Regions from separate parts of the Homo sapiens genome. Here region 1 is linked to region 2. Evidence: fine-mapped expression QTL. A gene starts in region 2. The other region holds a variant in brackets. All regions are shown on one strand. Distances are between the middles of the regions.

Evidence for each region. PIP is the estimated chance that this variant, and not a neighbour inherited with it, causes the effect.
Region 1: its variant is fine-mapped to the expression of CHD3 in whole blood (INTERVAL, PIP above 0.99).

What each region holds. Positions count from the first base shown.
Region 1 is chr17:7,797,644-7,805,643 of GRCh38, reverse strand. It overlaps DNAH2 (dynein axonemal heavy chain 2), which reads right to left. Exons shown (of 86, transcript NM_020877.5): 53 at 7,815-7,964; 54 at 7,320-7,487; 55 at 6,926-7,086; 56 at 6,402-6,541; 57 at 3,934-4,066; 58 at 3,627-3,766; 59 at 1,178-1,388; 60 at 570-686; 61 at 251-392. Among named protein-coding and RNA genes, the nearest start is that of KDM6B, 33 kb to the left of the region's middle. The variant G/A (reference allele first, on the strand shown) is at 4,333.
Region 2 is chr17:7,880,133-7,893,052 of GRCh38, reverse strand. CHD3 (chromodomain helicase DNA binding protein 3) reads right to left here and starts at 4,264. Exons shown (of 40, transcript NM_001005273.3): 1 at 3,953-4,264; 2 at 3,277-3,389; 3 at 2,312-2,482; 4 at 1,989-2,113. The coding sequence starts at 4,052. It also overlaps a transcript of NAA38 not described here. RefSeq lists enhancers at 3,263-3,832, 7,152-7,201 and silencers at 5,242-5,401, 7,452-7,531.

The DNA.
Region 1 (8,000 bases), 85 kb after region 2:
CCTGGGCTCAAGTGATCTGCCCACCTTGCCCTCCCAAAGCTTGGGTTTACAGGCATGAACCACCACACTCGACCCACAACCAAAGAACCTTAACTGATATTCATGCGGTCTCCTTTCTACTAGGCCCTGTGCTCTTGAGGGTAAGAACAATGCCTCATCCATCCCTATCTTTCTGAGTGTCTGCTGCACAGCCGACGATCAATAAACACTGGGTGAGTGGAAGTCATTGATTTCATTGTCTCTAGCTTACCTAGCTGCCTCTTGGCCTCTGCCCATGTGGGCTCGTTGCCTCGAAGAATCATAACTGCCTGCATCACTATCTCCACTTGGGCTGGGGGCCGTCCATAAGACTTGATCTCTCCTATATCCTTCTTGTTCAGAGACTCCAGGGCCTGGGGGAAAAGGGGATAAAGTGAGGGTAAGACAGGACCTTCTGGAGACAGAACCTAGCTGAGGTGCCACCTCTTCTTCCCACTTCCCCAGAGTCTTTGAGGACAAAGAAGACTGGCCCATTCCCTTCCCCGGGGCCTCGCGTTCCTGGCTCCCATCCTTGCACCCGCCCCTGGTACCCGCATGGCCTCTTCCAGGGCGGGCAGTGCCTCTTCTAGATCTTTCTGGGCATTGTCAGCCAGTGCCTGACACTTGATTTCCTCAACTGCAATCTTTTCACTGTTGGCTGTTACGGCCTAGGGATGAAAAAAGGACAAGGGTTTTTTGTCTTTGCCTTGGGCAAAGGTGGGAGTGACGGTGTTGGTGGAAAAGATGAAAGAGAAAGCTAAAGAATTTTTTTTTTTTTTTGAGATGGAGTCTAGCTCTTTCGCCCAGGCTGGAGTGCAGTGGTGCAATCTCAGTTCACTGCAACCTCCGCCCCCAGGGTTTAAGCGATTCTCCTGCCTCAGCCTCCCGAGTAGCTGGGATTACAGGCACCCGCCACCACGCCCAGCTAATCTTTGTATTTTTAGTAGAGACAGGGTTTCACCATGTTGGCCAAGTTGGTCTCGAACTCCTGACCTCAGGTGATCCTCCTGCCTCAGCCTCCCAAAGTGCTGGGATTACAGGCGTGAGCCACTGCACCCAGTCACTAAAGAAAATTTAAGAAGGGGGGAACATGGGTTCCCTGACGCAGTAGCCGGCACTGGTGGGAGTGGGGCACGGGGGGTGGGCGTGGGCCCTGGACCTTCTGCTGCTCATCTGCCTCCCGCTTCTGCTGCACAATGATGACCAGGTACTCCTCACACTGCTTCTGGAACTCAGCCACCTTCTTCTTGGCATCCTCCAGCTCCAACGACATCACTTGCACCTTTTCCCTAGTTTCGTCGATCTTGAACAAGCCTGTCCGCAGTTTATTGGCTTGGGCCAGCAGCTCCTGCCGTTTTTCTCCCAGCAACCTGGGGGAAAGAATAGGACAGGGTGTGGAGAGGCGGGGCTTCCGGAAAGCGCGGTGTCCTGTAAGGTCCACCTTCCCCGTGTGTCTCGAGTCCGCCTTCCTTTCTGTTGCCACCAACACTACCCCCACCATCCTGGTCGGGATTCTATCACTTCCTGCCTGGGTCATTGCCAACAGCTTCCCAAGGGCTCTTCTTGATTTCAGGCTCTCATTCCTCTGGTTTGTTCTACACACCACTACCAGAATCAGCTTGTTAAACAGTCTCCATCACACCACCTCCCCTACATGAGAATCTTCCTCTGTTTCCCACTGTGGAACAGGCAGGTGGGCTGGCCCAGGGCAGGCAGCCGTCCCTCAGCTCCAGCCTGGTTTTTTTTCCCTATGGGAATGAATGTGGGCCCAGTATTGCAACAATTTATTGCTCTCTCTCTCTCTTTCTTTTTTTGTAGAGATGGCGTCTTGTTATTTTGCCCAGGCTGGTCTCAAACTCCTGACCTCAAGTGATCCTCCCACCTCAGCCTCCCAACGTGCTGGGATTACAGGCATGAGCCACTGCACCTGCCCCACAATTTCTGATTTTTTTTTTTGAGACGGAGTCTCGATCTGTCACCCAGGCTGGAGTGCAATGATGCAATCTCAGCTCACTGCAACCTCCACCTCCCGGGTTCAAATGATTCTCCCGCCTCAGCCTCCCCAGTAGCTGGCATTACAGGCACCCGCCATCATGCCTGGCTAATTTTTGTATTTTTGTAGAGACAGGGTTTCACCATGTTGGCCAGGCTGTTCTTGAACTCCTGACCTCAAGTGATCGGCCCACCTTGGCCTCCCAAAGTGCTGGGATTACAGGCGTGAGTCACCGTGCCCAGCCTTATTTGTATCTTTTAAAATATCCTTTGCAATAAATCAGCAATAGTAGGTGAAGTGTTTCCTGAGTTCTGTGAGCCACTCTAGCAAATTAACTGAACCTGACAAGGGGGTGGTGGGAACCCTTGATTTATAACCGGCCAGGCAGAAACACAGGTAAAACACTGGGCTTTCGGTTAGCATCAGAAGCGGCGGGTGTATTGTGGGACTGAGCCCTCCACCTGTGCGATCTGACTCTAACTCCAGGTAGACCATTTCAGACTTGAGTTATATCATAGGACACCCAGCCAGTGTCCCCTGGAGAACTGCTTGGGTGGGGAAAATCCCCACCACATCTGGTGTCAGAAGTGAAGTACAGCCAGCCTTCCGTATCCACATCCGTGGATTCAACCAACAGAGGATCAAAAATATTTGAAAAAAGTCTGGGCACGGTGGCTCATGCCTGTAATCCCAGCACTTTGGGAGGCCAAGGCCGGAGGATCACCTGAGGTCAGGAGTTCAAGAACAGCCTGGCCAACATGGTGAAACCCTGTCTCTACTAAAAATACAAAAAAAAAAAAAAATAGCTGGGCATGGTGGCGCGTGCCTGTAATCCCAGCTACTAGGTAGGCTGAGGCAGGAGAGTCACTTGAACCCGGGAGGCAGAGGTTGCAGTGAGCCAAGACTGCGCCACTGCACTCCAGCCTGGGCAACAGAGCGAGACTCCGTCTAAAAAAAAAAAAATTGCAAAAAAATTTGCATCTGCACTGAACATGTACAGACTTTTTCTTCTTGTCATTATTCCCTAAACAATACAGTATAACAACTATTTACATAGCATTTACATTGTATTAGGTATTATAACTCATCTAGAGAGGATTCAAAGTATATGGGAGGAACGTGCATAAGTTACATGCAGATACTCCATTCTATATCAGGGACTGGAGCATCTGTGGATTTTGGTATCCGTGGGAGGTCCTGGAACCAATCCCCCACGGATGCTGAGGGACTGTACTGTGTTGAGTGAGAGAGTAGGGAAAACACTTTGCTTTTTCTATCTCATACAGGTAGAAAGTCTAGAAGACATTAAAGGCAGACAGGAAAGGACTGGGTATATTATGGCAATGTTCCAGTTATATTATGGTCAGAAAAAGACAGAGAAACTTCATGCCAGAAAATAAGGGCCAAGAGGGTGTGGAGAGCGGCTGAGGGGGACATAGCCAGAAGGCTCTGGAGACAGCCCCTCCCACGGGAAGCCCCAACTCCCTCTTCCCAACTTCCTGGGCAGAACTGTGGCCTTTGTGTCTCTGCCCTTGCACATCAGCATCATTTCACCCATCGCCCTCAGAAGACACCAGCCTCCCTGGCCCTGCACATCCCCTGCCCCCCTTCATACTTCTTATATCCAGACAGGAGTTCCAGGTATTTGGTGGGTGTGACATAGTTGTGTCTCCGCAGTTCCAACAGCATCTTCTGGGAATACTGAGCTACTGACCAGTGCATAGTGACAAAGATCTGGGCCACCTTCCTGTGGATCTGAGGCCAGTGACACAGGATGAAAAGGCAGATGGAAACGGAAGTGGGAGAGAGGCTGGGAGTGCGATGAGAGGCGGGAAGGAGAGAGGCCGGGGGTGCGATGAGAGATGAGAGGCGGGGGAGAGGGAGGCCAGGGATGCAATGAGAGGTGGGGAGGAGGGGCTCACATTCTCCTGAGTTCCCAGGTCTACTCCTATGAGGCACTTCTCAGCCACCTCGAGCAGGGCCTCTTGGGGCCACTCTGAGAACCAGTTGATGGTTGTGCAGTTCACCAAGGCTGGGTACTGGCGGATCCAGTTCCTGGGAAGGGGTTTGGAGAGGCTGTAAATTCCGTGCACAGACACAGCCTCCAGGTACTGGCTTCCCAACACGCATCCACTCACTTTCTAAGAACCTAAAATGCCCCATCCCCTTGCTCCTGTATCTCCTTGTCCAAATTCTGTTCCTGCAGAGCTAGTTCAGCAGAGCATTTAGAAACAGCTTCTGGCATCAGAAAAACCTGGTTCTACACTTTCGAGGTGTGGATCTCCAGCAAGTATCTAAGCTCTTTGAATGCCAGTTTCCTC[G/A]TCTCTAAAATGGGAATAATAATACATGCTGACTAGGATGGTTGGGGGATTCAGTGAGGTGTCACACGTGAAAAGCTCAGCGTAGCGCCTGGCTATGGTAAGTACACCGTGTATCACAAACATTAAAAACAAAATGGTAGGCCGGGCACTGGAGTTTGTGCCTGTAATCCCAGCACTTTGGGAGGCCAAGGCAGGTGGCTTCCTTGAGCCCACGTGTTCGAAACCATCCTAGGCAACATGGCGAAACCCCATCTCTACAAAAAGTACGAAAATTAGCTGGCCGTGGTGGCATGCGCTTGTAGTCCCAGCTACCGGAGAGGCTGAGGCAGGAGGATCACTTGAGCCTGGGAGATGGAGGTTGCAGTGAGCCAACATGGCACCACTGCACTCCAGCCTGGGCAACAGAGCAAGACTCGGTCTCAAAAAAAAATTTTTTTTTTTTTTTGAGACGGAGTCTTTCACTCTCGCCCAGGCTGGAGTGCAGTAGCGCCATCTAGGCTCACTGCAAGCTCCACCTCCCAGGTTCACGCCATTCTCCTGCCTCAGCCTCCCGAGTAGCTGGGACTACAGGTGCCCGCCACCATGCCCATCTAATTTTTTTGTATTTTTAGTAGAGACGGGGTTTCACCGTGTTAGCCAGGATGGTCTCGATCTCCTGACCTTGTGATCCACCTGCCTCGGCCTCCCAAAGTGCTGGGATAACAGGCATGAGCCACCGCGCCCAGACAAAAAAAAATTTTTAAGGTAATCCAAATTGCTTCCCTGCACAAGTTCTCCGCCCTCTTCCTAGTTTCTAATTCCCTTAAAAATCTAGTCATATCAAGAAAATGTGGTATAGACATACAAGATAATATTATTCAGCCTTAAAAAAAGAAGGAAATCCTGACACATGCTACAACATGGATGAACCTTGAGGACAATACGCTAAGTGAAATAAGCAAGTCGCAGATAGACAAATGGTAGCTGGGCGCGGTGGCTCACGCCTGTAATCCCAGCACTTTGGGATGCCAAGGCGGGTGGATCACTTGAGGTCAGGAGTTTGAGATCAGCCAGACCAACATGGTGAAACCCTGTCTCTACTAAAAGTACAAAAATTAGCTGGACATGGTGGCGAGCACCTGTAATCCTAGCTACTGGGAGGCTAAGGCACGAAGATTACTTGAACCTGGGAGGTAGAGGCTGCAGTGAGTCGAGATCACAGCACTGCACTCCAGCCTGGGCAACACAGCGAGACTCCGTCTCAAACAAAAAAAGAAACAAAGACAAGTGCGGCATGGTTCCACCTATGTGAGGCATCTGATGTCAGACTCAAGAGACAGCAGCTGGGGAGGGAATGGGGAGCAATGGTTTCATGGGTATGGAGTACGGCCTCGGGAGCATGAGAAAGCTCTGGAGCTGTTACACAACAGTGTGAGTGTACTTCACACGACTGAGCACTGCACTCAGAAACGATTAAGATGATACATTTTGGGTGTGTGTGTGTGTGTGTATTTTGAGACAGAGTCTCGCTCTGTCACCCAAGCTGGAGTGTAGTGGTGTGATCTCGGCTCACTGCAACCTCTGCCTCCCGGGTTCAAGCGATTCTCCTGCTTCATCCTCCTGAGTAGCTGGGACTACAGGCGCCCCCGCCACCATGCCTGGCTAATTTTTTGTATTTTTAGTAGAGACGGGGTTTCACCATGTTAGCCGGCATGGTCTCGATCTCCTGATCTCGTGATCCACCCACCTAGGCCTCCCAAAGTGTTGGGATTACAGGTGTGAACCACTATGCCCGGCCTGTGTGTGTGTGTTTTTAACCACAATTAGATTTACAATGACAAAACAAAACCAAAAAGCCACCCACCAAAACAAACAAACAAAAATCTAGTTATGCCAAAAAAGGATGGACGACTCCCATGTCCACCAAAGGAACTTCCTGAAATCAGGCACAGCCTAAGGAAAGGAGATGGGTGAGGCGGGCAGAGGAGCCTGCTGTTATTCCTGACACTAATTTCCAGAAGGCACAGGAGGCCACAGCAGGGTGAGGGAGCACACAGAAGGGGCTGAGAGAAGGATGTCACAGAAGTCACCTGAAGGGATCCCCCATGGGGCTGAGGCAGAGCACGATGTGCAGGTTGTTCTGCACGCGTTCAATGAGGTAGGCGAAGAGGCTGTCCGATGACTCAGGCACCTGCTCCACCCGGGCCTGGTCTATGATATGCGACTGGATCTGGACAGAAGCCACCCAGGGTCAGAGGGCTGGCGTGTCCATAGCAGAATCAGCGGGGGCAGCGGGTCAGGTGGGGCTGACGAAGTGTTTCCCAGGCTGGACTTGAACTCCTGGCCTCAAACCATCCTCCCACTTCAGCACCCCCCACCCCCGAGTAGCTGGAACTACAAGCTCAAGCCACTGTGCCTGGCTCTGAAGCGTGGGTTTTAAAGCAGCTCTGCCCAGGGTCCCTGGAGGGGACCTTCCACCTTACAGGGCTGAGGTGGGCAGTGGGGGTGTGGCAGTGGGGGTGTGCCAGTGGCACATTCTGGGAGCTGTGGTCCTTCTGGGGTCAGCTAGGCAGGCCAAAGAACTGACTGGTCAAGGGTGTGGAAGGAATCCTACCTCTTCAAATTCATCAGGCTTGTAGAGATTGGGCACCTCGCCTGAGCTGAGGATGTTGTTGATGTCCTCTAGGAAGGACTCATCAGCTATTTGGGTGTCCACAAAAATGAAGGACGTGGTCTTGAGCTCCACCCCAGCCTGGCGATACAGACGCTTGATATCTGGCCGGGGGAGGGAAGGAGGACAAACTCACTGCAGATTCCCCATCCTGGGCTTGATTCCTTTTCTGAGATTTAGGAACCCTCCCCGCCCCGCAGCATACACGCGACACCATCCTACACCCAACACGGGCCAGACACGTCTGCCCATCTGGCTGCCATCTCTCCTCTCTTGTCACTGCAGGAATGTATGCATCTGATCTTTTATTCCTAGCATTTCAGAAACCCAGCCGTACCATCTCGGAACTCCTGCTTCCGATAATGTTTGGTGACCTCGATCTGGAAGGTGGTGTAGTCGCAGATGGATGAAGCCAGGCGGGCCAGACTCTGGCGTCCGCTGCCCCCGATACCCACCAGGAGCATGTTGCCCCGAGGCTGTCCAATGACCCGCACGATCCGTGTGACTGGGGGTGGGGTGGGTGTGAGGGTAATGAGTTGGCTGAGCAAACTCAGGGGACCTCCAGGCCCTAGGCTAGGGATTGGGGCCCCTGAAACTGAAGCAGAGGAACCAAGAGGTATGAGAAGAAGTTGGTGCCCAAGGCCCAGGAGGCAATTCAACTTTTAACCTCCACCTTCTCTGTTAAACACACACTGCCACAGGGCATCTGGGGCCAGGGAGAAAGGCAGCTTCTGGAACTTGATTTGGGAGACCTGGGAAGGGACCCCTATTTCCTTAGACATACCCCATCACTGAGATGATGGGGAAGGGGATAGGCGTGGCAGGTGCTCACTGTGTTCAATAGCCTCTCGGAAGAGCACTAGCTGCATGGGCACGACAGAGGGTGACAGGTTATACTCATTTAGAGCTGTCTCCATGACTGTCTTCAGCACTGTCAGATCCGTGAGGTCTTCATACACCTTGGGCTCCTTCAGGAAATCCCCTGAGCCATGGGAAGAGGGGATCAGAGTCACAAATG
Region 2 (12,920 bases):
ATGCCTGTAATTCCAGGCTGAAGCAGGAGGATTGCTTGAGCCCAGGGCTATGAGATAAGCCTGGGCAACAAAGTGAGATCCTGTCTCTACAAAAAATTAAAATAAAAAAAAATAATTAGCTGGGTGTGGCAGCACCTGAGGCTGAGGCAGGAGGGTGGCTTGAGCCCAGGAGTTGGAGGATATAGTGAGCTATGATCACACCACTGCAGTGCAGCCTGGGTGACAGAATGAGACCCTGTCTTTAAAAAAAGGGAAATAGGCTGGGCGCAGTGGCTCACGCCTGTAATCCCAGTACTTTGGGAGGCCAAGGTGGGAGGATCACGAGGTCAAGAGATGGAGACCATCCTGGCCAACATGGCGAAACCCCGTCTCTACTAAAAATACAAAAATTAGCTGGGTGTAGTGGTGCGCACCTGTAGTCTCAGCTACTCGGGAGGCTGAGGCAGAAAAATTGCTTGAACCTGGGAGGCAGAGGTTGCAGTGAGCCAAGATTGCGCCACTACACTCCAGCCTGGCGACAGAGTGAGATTCCATCTCAAAAAAAAAAAAAAAAAAAGGGGAAATAAAAAACAGCGAAATAAAACTTAAAAGCATAAAAGGTTAAAATAAAATCAACAAAAATGCTTTACTTTTGTATACTACTTTACAGTTCATAAAACCCTTTCACATACATTCCACCTTATCTTGTCCTCACAATAATACTCTTGAGTTGCTATGATTCTCTGCATTTTACTAGTAAGTTCCATGGGCCCTGAAGATGGGCTTCCGTAGGACGGAGTGTGAAAGAGTCAGACCATGCTGGTTCTGCTCTGGGGTGGGGTGCTCAACTCTTGTGCGGACACGGGTGATCCATGGTGCTGAGAAAAGCCCCAAGTTCAGCAGTAAGGTAGGTGAGACAACGTTACTAATGACAGTCACCAGTTACTGAATGCTCCCTAGGAGCCAGGCACTGACGGTACTGTGCTTTCCATTCATTATCCCACCAAACCCACACAGATTCCTATGAGGTATATATTATTATTCCCCGTTTATAGAAGAGGAAATTGAGGATTGAAGAAGTTCAGTCACTTGCCCAAAATGTAACCAGATGTGAACCTCAGCAGCTGCCTCCAGAGCACTGAACTGATATGTTAAAGTGCCTTCTCCCCAAAACAAAATACATCGGCACTATTTTTTCTTTTTTTTTTTTTGAGACGGAGTTTCGCTTGTTGCCCAGGCTAGAGCATAGCAGTGGTGTGATCTCGGCTCACTACAACCTTTGCCTCCCGGGTTCAAGCGATTCTCCTGCCTTAGCCTCCCGAGTAGCTGGGATTACAGGCATGTGCCACCACGCCCAGCTAATTTTTTTGTATTTAGTAGAGACGGGGTTTCACCATGTTGGATGGGCTGGTCCTGAACTCCTGACCTCAGGCGATCCACCTGCCTTGGCCTCCCAAAGTGCTTGGATTACAGGCATGAGCCACTGCACCTGGCCCATCTCTGCTATTTTCTACTCTACTATTCTCTACTTTTCTTCAGGAGCCACTGAAGCTCAGGTCCCACTGCCAGCAGTGGACCCTCCATTATTACCAGGGCCTAAGGAAGGGGCACAGGACCTGCTAAGTGAGCTAAGGAAGTTCAGGAACACTGATGGTATCTCTCAGGTCCAGTCTAGAGAGAAGTCACAGAGCAGAAGATGGAGCTGTTGGGGCAGGGGAGGGCTCACTATATTCTGTCCTCACTTTATTCTGTTGCTAAAGAGTTCTCTAACCCAGCACTGGAATCATGATGGCCCCTCCACCCCTCGCCCCTCAGTGAAGAGTTCTCAACTGGGGTTCTTGGATCCTTATGAGTCTAGGAGTTCCCTGAAATGACGTGTAGAATTTGGTGTGTATACACCGTGAATTCTCTGGAGAGCAGTTTCATAGCTTTCATCAGATTCCAAGGGGTCCAGGACCTCCCTCAAATTAAAAGTGTCAATTAGCGAGGATTCCCCAGTCTTACCGCACCTCATGAACTGGCTGAAGGCTTTGTAGTTGGTGAGCGTGTGGTAATCCTCCTCAGAGAACACATGCTCCACATCCTCCAGGCCCCAGGTCAGAAGCAGAGTTGCTGATGACTTCTGTTCCACTTGCTGCGGGAGAGGGGCTTTGGTGAAGTAGGTGCTCCTCCAGCCCCTATTCCAGGCCGCACACAGGCCTGTCTACCTACCCACTAGCTTCCCTGGGCTTTCTTGCTTCTTGCCCCATTCTCCAGTCCAGTCTCCATTCCTCCCCTCCTCATGCCCGTCTTTAATGCAGATTTCTCACTCTCATTCCCTAATTCTACTCACCTTTTGCCCCCCATCTCCCTCCCCCTTTTTCCGCCGCTTTGTCTTCTTCTCCTTTTTTTCTCGGTGCTTCCTTCTTCGTTTCCGACCCGGTCCGGTTCCATATTCACTGCCCCCACTCTCTGACTTCTCCCGGTACTCATCTCGCTCAGAACCAAATTCCTCCTCACTGTCCTAAGAGAAAGAAATAAAAATAACATTTATTCATCCCTACCATTGCCAGAAACTGTTCTCAGCACATACCATATCTTACCTCTTTTAATCTTCACAACAATCCTGTGATAGTAACTAATTTTTTATCTCCTTTTTTTTTTTGGAGATGGAGTCTTGCTCTGTCACCCATGCTGGAGTGCACTGACGTGATCTCGGCTCACTGCAACCTCCACCTCCCGGGTTCAAGCGATTCTCCTGCCTCAGCCTCCTGTGTAGCTGGGATTACAGACGTACCACCGCGCCCGGCTGATTTTTGTATTTTTAGTAGAGACGGAGTTTCACCACATTGGCCAGGCTTGTCGCGAACTCCTGACCTCAAATGATCTACCCGGCTCAGCCTCCCAAAGTGCTGGGATTACAGGCGTGAGCCACTGCAACCGGCCTTTATCTACTTTTTACAGATGAGGAAACTAAGGCACAGAGAGCCAAATAAACGGCCTGGTATCCTAGACAGAGGAATGCTGGACTCTTGAATTCATACAGTCTTCCAGAGCTTGTGCTTTCAACTGCTTCTCTTTGCTGCTGAGGACACACTGACAACGAGGCTCTTCACTAGGTTGCAGTGAATGAAGTTAGGGTCCCAGATCCCTGAGATACAGGCCAACAGTGGCAGGGAAGTGGGGGGCCCGGGGGATCAAGCCTCCCTGGCTTCAGAACCCCACCCCCACACCAGTAATCAGGACCAGAGAAAATGTAGGTCTCTGAGAATGGGTCTCTTGAGCCTTGCCACAGAGTTAGGAATTCTTGACACTTACACGCTTCTTGCGTTTTCGGGGTTTTCCTGGCTTGTTCTCCTTCTGCTTCTTGGGTCCTCGTTTTCTCTTCTTCACACCCAATGCTGACGGCAGCAGCCGAATGTCATCCTTATCTTTGAAGCAAAAAGCATCAGAAAACCTAAGCCTCTAGGTTTCCAGCCTCTGAGGCCCCTCAACTTGCCCCTTCCCCACCTCGGCAGTTCCCACTCTCTAGGAAGCATTAACTCCTCCAAGCCCTGCCTCCCTTCACTGGATGCAAACAGAAAGTGTTTCGAGTACTCTGGGATGCTCTGGTTCTGAATGGGAGGTCAGGGGTCAGAAGAGAAGAGCAGCCAAACCACTCCCCTCCCTCCCCTCCTACTAACAAGAGACCAGGCTCCAGGCCATGGGCTCTGACTGTGGCAGGTCCTTTCAGTCACCGCCAGGGCTCCTCCTGCCTTCCCCCTCACTTCGCCAGCTGGCATCCTGCCCAGGAACTGGGGAAGCCATGCCCAGCTGCTGGCCTGGCCTGACCCCAGCACTTGGAGTGGGGAGACACAAGCTGGCAGCTCCCTAAGCCAGATGCTGGGGAGGGAGAGCCAAAGGTGGACACCTGGGTTCTCACACTAACACCCTGGGGCCCTGACATCCTTTTGCCAAGAGGGAGGCCTCTATTTACATTTCCTCGGATAATTACCAGGCATCCTGTCACCCCAACACAGTCCTGGAGGAAAAGAAATCCTCAGCTGGTCATTTTTACTTCTTGCCCACAGGATCACAGTGTCTGCCGCCTTCATCACACAGGAGAAAGTCTCCACAATTACCTAAATATTCCTCCTCCCAAGTAGCCTAAAACCTACCTTCAATTCTATTCCCATCTCCCTGCTCCCTTTGGGAACTAGGGGGCCATACCCTTTGTTTCCCGATCTCACCCTTCACCTCCATATTTTGTTCCAGATATCCTGACCCATTCATCTATACGCAGTATGGGAGACCCAAACAAAGATATAGGCACAGACAGACACACCCAGCATATGCCTTCTCAAAAGCACGCGCGCGCACGCGCGCACCCACACCCACACACACTCTCAGGCCCACAAATCCAGAGGATGGCCTGTACCTGCTTCAGCAGGGATAGGTCCCTGGCTTTCTCCCCAGATGTCTCTGCCAGAGGACCCCAGGCCCCCCACCCCATTATCTGTGAAGGTGTCACTCTGTGAAGGCTTGGGGAACGGAACGGAGAGTTACCCCACATAAAGGAAGACAGGATGCCCCACAGACCTGGGGCCCTGGGGCTCTGGTTCACGTCCCTCCCCTACCAAGCACTAGACTAACCAGCCAGACCTGTCTAGTACAGAGAGAGGCAGCCGATGCAAGATGGGAAAGCCTGGGCTTGGCCCAGCCCCTAGCTCTAGGACACACAATCCTTTCTCCTTCCCTCAACAGCCAACGGAAAATTAGCCACAATTAACACCAGAGGCCTCCGTTTCCACTGCCTCAGAGTCGCTGCCTCGCCTTCCTTCAGTGCCACCTTTCCTGCTAACTCCAGCATCCTGTGTCCCCTTGTGCAGGAAGACACTCTAGGACTGTGTGCGTGTGTGCAGGGGGGTGGCTGCCAGAGCCCGGGTGTGAAACGGAATGGGGACTGTAATAGGAAGTCAGCAAGGAAGGCGCCATGCCCCAGCAGCCGGCTCCCCCTGGCCCCAGGGACTTCGGTTGACTTGAACATGGAAACGCAGGCTGCCGAGGCAGTGGCAAGGGCAGGCCAACTGGCTAAGGTTCAGGGACACGGCCTCGGCCACCACCAGCCAGGGGTGGTGCACAAGCCGGTTCACTCTACTCCCCACCCCAGCGGGAGGTTCCCGAACTTGGGCAGGCGTCGGTGGCGGGAGAGGCAAAGCGAGAACGGCAAGGAAAAGCAAGGAAGGGTAATAAAGCAAATCTAAGTCCCAACCTCGGTCTCAGCAGCCACTCAATGCTGGCCTGGAGCCCAGACTCTCCCACATCCCCGGCTCGGATCTCAGGGAGGCAGGGAGGAGAGAGGCGGGGGCCGGAGGGCGCAGGGCGGAGCCTGGCCGCCCGAGCAAGCGGGAGGAGTCTCGGCCGAAGCCTCGCCTCCCGCCCGCCCCTCTCTTCTTCTAATCTCACCATCAATCTCTCACACATATATTTATTTTTTCTCAAATTCCCCTCCCTCCCCCACAACGCACCACCATAATAGGTCTGCTGCACATGCGTACTGCAGGCAGGGGGTGGGTTTGTATTTTCAGACCTTTTGCAAAGAAACTACCAGAATTTTCCGCACCACCCACAATCATTCCCCACCCCCACCCCCAAGGAATCACATCTATATATTATGTTATATTATTTCTCTCGACTTGCCAGAAGGGGGAGGGAGAAGAAATGAGTTTTTGGCTTCCTGCTCCCTTCCCCCACCAACACGACTGCTATTATTTTAAACGTTTAACAATGTAAGGAGACTGGAGAGAGGGGGAAGGGATAAAATTGGTCTTGAGTAAGAATGTAAAACAAAATGGTGAGAATCAAAGCAGTCGGAATGGAAAACAATGGAAATCTCTCCTGTGCACAAATGCATACTCTAGACAAGGAAGAGCGAGGGCAGCCTGAACAAATTTCCTTAGAGGAGGGTTCTTTTCCCCACACTTAGGTAGACAGAAATAATGAGTGTGCTAAAAATAATTTCCCGAAGTTTTACCTCCGAAAGTCATCTGAGGGGGTGTATCTGGGTCACTCATTCGACTTGGAGGGCTGAAAGGGAGATAAAAATTGCCCAGGGGGAGAGGGGAGGTGGGTTTTCATTTCAGTTGTAAAATGTAAGCAGCCTCTGACGTCTCTTCTGGTCTATTCAGAAAGCCAAGAGGGAAAGGGGAGGCCGGGTTGACACAAAGACCCATCTCAACCTCGGATCCTTTCACGCTTCTCTCCCCAACGTACCCAGATCCGGGACCCACACCACCCCACCCCAGACTCCAAGTCCCAATACAAATAGGTGAGCGCTGCCAAGCCCCTGGCAGGACCTGACGGCCTTTCTTTCCCTCTTTTCAGCGCCTCTGCCGGAGGCAACCCCAAAGGCACCCTCTCCCCACAACTCCTCATTCCTCCTCCTCCTGCCAAGGCAGGGGGCTCTCTGGGAGAACTTTTTCAAAACTTTACCCTTTTTCAGACAAGCTTGGGGGGCGGGGAGACTTTATCCAGTTTCCAGGAGACACACATCCCTCCCCGACCCACAAGAAAGCACCCCCCGCTCCCCCAAAGGTCGTCTCGGCTAGACAGGAACGTTTGCCACAGAAGCCACACGGATCAATATGACAGTTTTACAAAGAGCCCGGAGTTGGCCGTTTTGAAGTTTGGTGCATTTGTGCCGCATGGCAGCCAGAGGCCCGGGGGTGCGGAGGTCCCCCTGCTGTTCCCCAAGCAGGGGGTGTGGACACCCAGATGCTCACCTATCCCAAAGAAGACTAGAAATCACTCCACTAGGAGGGTGGTCTGAGGGGGACACCGCTGGGCGCCTGACGCGGCGCAGCGGTCTGGAGAGCGCCGCCCAGAGAGTGCCGCCGGGTGACTTGTCACCTCGGGGGACGGGTGCTGAGTGATGGTCAAGCTGCAGAACAGCTGGGTGGGCAGTTCACGCCCCCCAACGTGCTCAGGGAGTGGGTGGTTTCAGCGAGAGAGTGAGTGACAGTGAATGGCAGCCACGTGAGAGTCACAGCTGGGCAGCTTGGCCACCCCAGACTGACGGGGTCAAGAGGGGGACCCCCCCCACCGCACTTGACACAAAAGAGCCCAGAGCCCCGGCGAGATGAAGGGGGTGGAGCCGGGGGTATCTGGTTCCCCAGACACTCTTCTCTCCGCTCCCCAATCCGAATGGACTGCTGTCCCTGCACAGGCTGGGGGAGCGAGGGGACGAGCTCCTGCCTTATTCCAGGAAGTGGTCTGCGTGGACTGTGGCCACCACCTGCCCCTACTCATCAGCAGCCCACAAACATTCACAAGACCCCTCCCTCGCGTGCCACCGCATGCCCCTCAGTTGGCGGGCACCTAAGTCTCCGCGGGTGGAGGGGGGTCCGATGGACACCGTCCCCACTCTGCCTGTCCAAGTCCTGAGCGGAGGGGGCAGGCCCGTCGGCTGCTCCGTGCGGGGAAACCCCACTCTCCCTCGGTCCAACCCCACCGGGGCCAGAGCCCGAGGGGCGCTCGCGCGGCCGCCCCTCCCCCACGTGCCCCTCCCCCACGCCGCCGTCCGGCCGCCAGGGTCTCGGCGGTCCCTCGCTCGGCCAGGGAGGGGGCCCTGGCTTCGCCTTGGCCGTTTCCTGCCTACCCCCTCCCCGCCGAGGGTAAAAAAAAAACCTCCTCCTCCTCCTCCCCCGAAAGCCGCGACCGAGTGGCCCGGTCCGCGCGCGCAGCTCGCGCCCAGCGCTCTCCAGCCGGGGTGGCGGCGGCGGCGGCGGCGGCGGCGGCGGCGGCGGCGGGGGAGGGGTGCGGCGGGGGAGGGGAGGAGGCCTGGCCCCGCGGTCGCAGCCGCCACCGCCCGCCCCGACCTCCCGGACCGCCGCGGGGCCACGGGCCCGAGCCCCGGATTCGCGCTCCGGATTCGCCTCGGCTCGGCCGCGCGGTGGGTGCCTCGCCCCCGCCCGGCTTCGCGCGCCCGCGGCTCCCACTCGGGCTTGGGGGGGGAGTCGGGGCGGGCGCTTACCTGGCGGCGGGGGCGGCGGCGGCGGGGGCAGCGGTGGCGGCGGCGGCGGCGGCGGCGGGAAGAGGTGGCAGCCGGGGGGGCTGTGGCGGTCGCGGCCCCGGTCGTGGCCCGGCCCGCGCCCGAGTACTCCCTCGTCGTCGTCCTCCTCATCGTCCTCGTCGGCCGCCTCCACCTCCTCCTCCTCCTCCTCGTCGCCCTCTTCTTCCTCCTCTTCTTCCTCCTCCGACACCACCATCTCCTCCTCCTCCTCCTCCTCGTCCCTCAGAGGGGAAGCCATCCTGTGGCTCTGGCCCCCCCACCACCCCCCCACCCACCGCCCGCCCGCCTCCCCCACCGCTACCACCACCACCTCCTCCTCCTCCTCCTCCTCCTCCTCCTCCTCCTCCTCGGCGGCGGCGTCCTCCTCCTCCTCACCGCCTCCCCCAGCCCCCCAAACCCCCGGGCCACCCCCCTCCGAAACCCCCACCCTCGGGGCCGCCGTCTGAGGAGGGGGGCCAAACCACCCCCAAAAATTGTCTTGGAAAAAATTGAGGAAAGACTTTTTTTCCTTCTCTCTTTCCTCCCAAGAGAACAAGAAAGGGGGATTTAAAATATATATATATATACATATATATATATATATATATGTATATATATAAAAGTTTTCGACTTCTCTCTGCCCCCCTCTCCGTTGCTTTAAATATATTTAAATTCTGAGGGGGGCGCTCAGAAATATTTCTCAGAGCTGAGGCACTAAGATGGCCGCCTTGAAATTATTTTTAAAACAACCCCCCCTCCAGCACCGCCACCCCCTCCATAAAGAAAGGGAGAGGGGGGAAAATCCCCTTTTCAAACAAAATGGCTGGCTTAATATTTCATTTTTCACCCCCCCATTCTCCTCCCTGTTACACCCCCATCTCCAAGCCTTTACCCAGAAACCCACAAATTTCTCCTTTTTCATAACTGATTAGTGCACAGATTAATAGAGATATTTTCCTTGTGTACTGAAGTGTGTGTGTGTGTGTGTGTGTGTTGGGGGGGCATGAAGGATTTCTGCATAAAACAAAAATGGCTGCTGTGACTAACTCCCCCCTTATAAAAAATATTTGAGGGGGGGCATTAATCAGTACTCATGCTCAGTCTGACATCAGCATAAATTGTTAAAGGTTAACTAGTTAGATACTAGTCCAACTAGATTTAATTTTTTTTATTTTCTTTACTAGTCTCTTCCTCCCCACCTCCCTTCTCTAAAGAAAAGCTTTTTTTTTTTTGAATACTTCAGAAGGGAGTGGTTTGATGTGAAGGTTTTTTTCCCCTTCAGGCATTGAAAAGGAAAAAGATGAAATATATGTTTATATATAACTCTGTTTCTACATACCTCATTGAAGTCACAACGCATTTAATTGTGTACATATCTTTTAAATGAGAAGCGGGACTGGATTTTTTTCTGCTTTCTTTAAAAAAAGTGATAGAAATCCTAGTGACTTTTGGGGGAGAGATATGAATAGATACGATGATTGAGTTTTTTTCAAAGGAGTCCATGTTTGATTCTCCCCTTTACCCAGCCTTTTCAGTGATTTATAATTGTTATAAATTTTATCTTTACTCTTTTCCCCTTTCCCTCGCTTTCCCCTCCTCCAATTGTTAGAATGTAAAATTCAACTGACTTGAGAAATTAATTTGGGGGGTAAACAACAAATTTTTAGGATAAAGAGGAAAGAGTCAAATCTGAAGATCGTGAAATTATGTTCTCTTTTCTTCCGTTTCAGTATATTTGCCTTCCCTCCATGATCTCCAACACTATCCGATAAAGTAGAAGCAACTGAGGTACCGTGAAAGAGAAAGGAGCTGGAACTGAGAAAAAGCAGAGGTAGGGGTTATACCCAGGCGTTTTCATCTAACTTTCTGACCTGTGATTTCCAACTGTACCCCAGTGTTTATGGTAAAGTGGTACCAGGAATTGGACAGTTGGAAAGGAGTCCCAAAGTAGCTTTCTCATACAGAGATTTGCCCAGAGAGGTCTAGACAGAAAATGATCCTTGCCAAATGGAGCAAAGGAAGGAGGGCAAATAGCTCAGTTCTACCCTCTTTCATTCTTGTTGACCCTTTCTTACTCTAGCTTCCTCCCATTCCTTTGATCTCCCTTTGCCCCTTCCCTTGCTTCCCATTCCATGCCTGTGGAATCATTTCTCTCTGGGTTATTCCTCTACCTCTCCAGTGTAACTGCTGGCCACCCATCTTCGGCGGTGCTCAGGAGCACCCTGAGAGGGAGGGGTAGGTGGGCAGCAACCAGAAAGTATTAGTGACTGGGAAGATGACGCACATTTTTGTTTATGAAGCTAAAATGTTCTTTATTAATGTTCCACTCCCCACACTAATGCACTTTATTGGGTGTTGGTTTCCATCTCTTTTTTTTTTAACCTGGCCTTTGGAATTCTCTTGCTTTGGTTCCCACATCATTTCTGTACTAAGTCTAACTCCTCCTCCTTTTCCAGTTTTCCTGTCGATTTTGCTCTCTTGTCTTCTTTCTCTGTCCCTCTTTACTAGTTCATCTGGTTATCCCCCCCTTTCTATATTGTGGGCTTCTCTCTATTTATGTCTTTGTTTTTAACTGAGACTATCCTTCTCATCCCTTGGACCCTCAGGCTCTGTCACCTCTACGTGACTTTCCATCTCTGTCTTCTTTCTGCTTACTTCTGTCTTCCAGTCTCTGACTGTGTGTGGCTCTTCCTCATGTGTGCCTGACTCCCCCTCTTTCTGGCCCCTTCTGTGTGTGTCTGTGGATCATACTGTGTATGGGAAGTGTCTCCACGTGTATGTGGGCCACACTGCGCATCATGTGCGCCGCAGCCTCTCTGCCTCTGTGCCCTCTCCCTATACTGAGAGCCTCTGCTTGCCACATGTGCCATGATCTGCAGGTGCGGGTGGCTAAAGGTGGCCGTGTGCATCCCTATACAAACACTCATCATTCTCTCTCTTGAGTGTGCTTTGCATGTGGATTTGCTAATTTGCCTTATTCTCCCTCTCATCCATCCTCCCTTTTGCCTGTCTGCATCTCTTTCTGTTCTCTCTCTCTCTCTCCTGACCTCTTGATTTTTCTTCTTCTCTCCTTATTTCTGCCTCTTTACCTGCTTGCTCCTGTTATGGTGTCTGCCTGCCTGCCTGTCTGCTCCTCCCTGACTGGCTGGCAGCCTCTTTTTCCTCTCTGGTTGTCTGTCTGCTTCTCTGGCTGTTTGCCCACCACTCTCTCTCTAGCCATCTGTCTCCCCGCCTGCCTGTCTCTATCACTTTTTTAGCCTGCATCTCTCGGTTTGTCTACCTTCCAGGCCCTGCCACGGCTCCCCATCTTGGTTTGCCTCTTCTCTTGCCCTTCTGCTTGTTCCTTCTCTTATTTGTGCCTGTTAAGTTCCTCCTTTTCCCTTGCCTCCCTTTAGATCTCTCTTGCCTGTCTACCCTGTTTGCTGCTATCCCACCGTTTCAGGCTTTTCTCTCTTTAGTCTTCATACTTACCAGCTTTTTCTTCCTTTGCTTCTTCTCTGCCAACTTCCATCAATGAGGATAGTCTCTCTCCCCTAAACCTCTCAGTAACCCCTTTGCCTCAAAGTCTTATCTAACTTCTTGCCACATCCCCTACCCTGCCTTCTCTCACGTTTGCCTTTATTTCAGTTATCTCTTTTTCTGTCTTTCTGGTTCCTCAGACAGTCTGCCTGTCTCAGTCTTTTTGCCATTTTCCCAGTCTCTCGCTGCCTTCCTGCCTTTTTGCTGTCTGCTTGGCAGGCTCTTGCTGTCCACGTCTCTTCTTGCTTTTCTCTCTTCTTTTGTTTCTTTTTCCAGTTAACTTCTAAATAGGTAGTACATACTTATGGTACAACATTTTAAAAGTACAGAAAGTGTACTGTGAAAAGTAAACCTGTCTCCCATCCTTCTCCCCTAGTCCCGGAGTTCCTCTCCTCAGAAGCAGCCACTGTTTCACATTTCCTGGATACTGCTCCAGAGAAAAGTCTACACATATACAAGTCTTTTTGCTTGCTTGCTTTTGCTTGTGTTTTGCTGTACTCCTCCCTACTTTTCTTCCAGTTTTTCTGGATGCTCCTTCCTCTGTCAGTCTGTCAGTACTCCTAACTAACTTGGCTGGGCTTGCCATCTCTGGTCTTTTTGATTCTACCAAGTGTTACCCAAAGCACGTGTCTTTTGGATTGACTAGTTACTGGTTGCATGCGTTCACTACCAGTACTTGAGGAGTGCTCAGGAAGGCTTTACTCTCTCCAAATGTAGTCTACTCTGCATGGTAAGTGGTCTGATGCCAGCAAGACATCTTTGTTGGTCGCTTCATCACTGAAATGTGTATTGGAGAAGGCATGAAAGCACCGGTAGTACTAAAAAGTACCCTATAAATATAGGCACTGTTAATAAGTAACAGTAAGCTGAGCTTACATGCACACAGAGTAGGTAGAGGACTGCCCTGCTTTCTCACTTAGTCTATATGAATTCTGTAAGGTCATGTGAATCCAGATCCTTTAGGTTGTCGACCTAGGCCTAAGAAGTTTGTCTTCCTCCTAGTCTAAAAAGCTTTCTCCTGATTAAAGCCTTCTGGCTCCACTCACATGCCACCTTAGAGACATTTTATAACTCTTTGAAGGAGACAAAGACACAACCTCTAACCAGGTCTCTTTGAAAAAGATGATAATAAAACTTCTACACACAATGCACTGTTCTTTCATTTCTGCTTTTTTACTGCCTGTTTTCCTGAGTTTAACTGTTTCAGCCTCTATCTTTGTGTCTCTCCACTCTTTCCCTCTTTCCCTCTCTTACTTCTCTTTTCTTGGTTCTTTCTTCTTATCTGTCTGTCTTGATCTCTATTCTAGCCTCTTTTTCTGATTGGCCCTCTCCCCTCTCTTCTGTCTGATTGGCCTGTATCCTTCCATCACCCCATCTGTCTGCTGGATTCTCCCTGTCTGCCTGCAGTAATGTA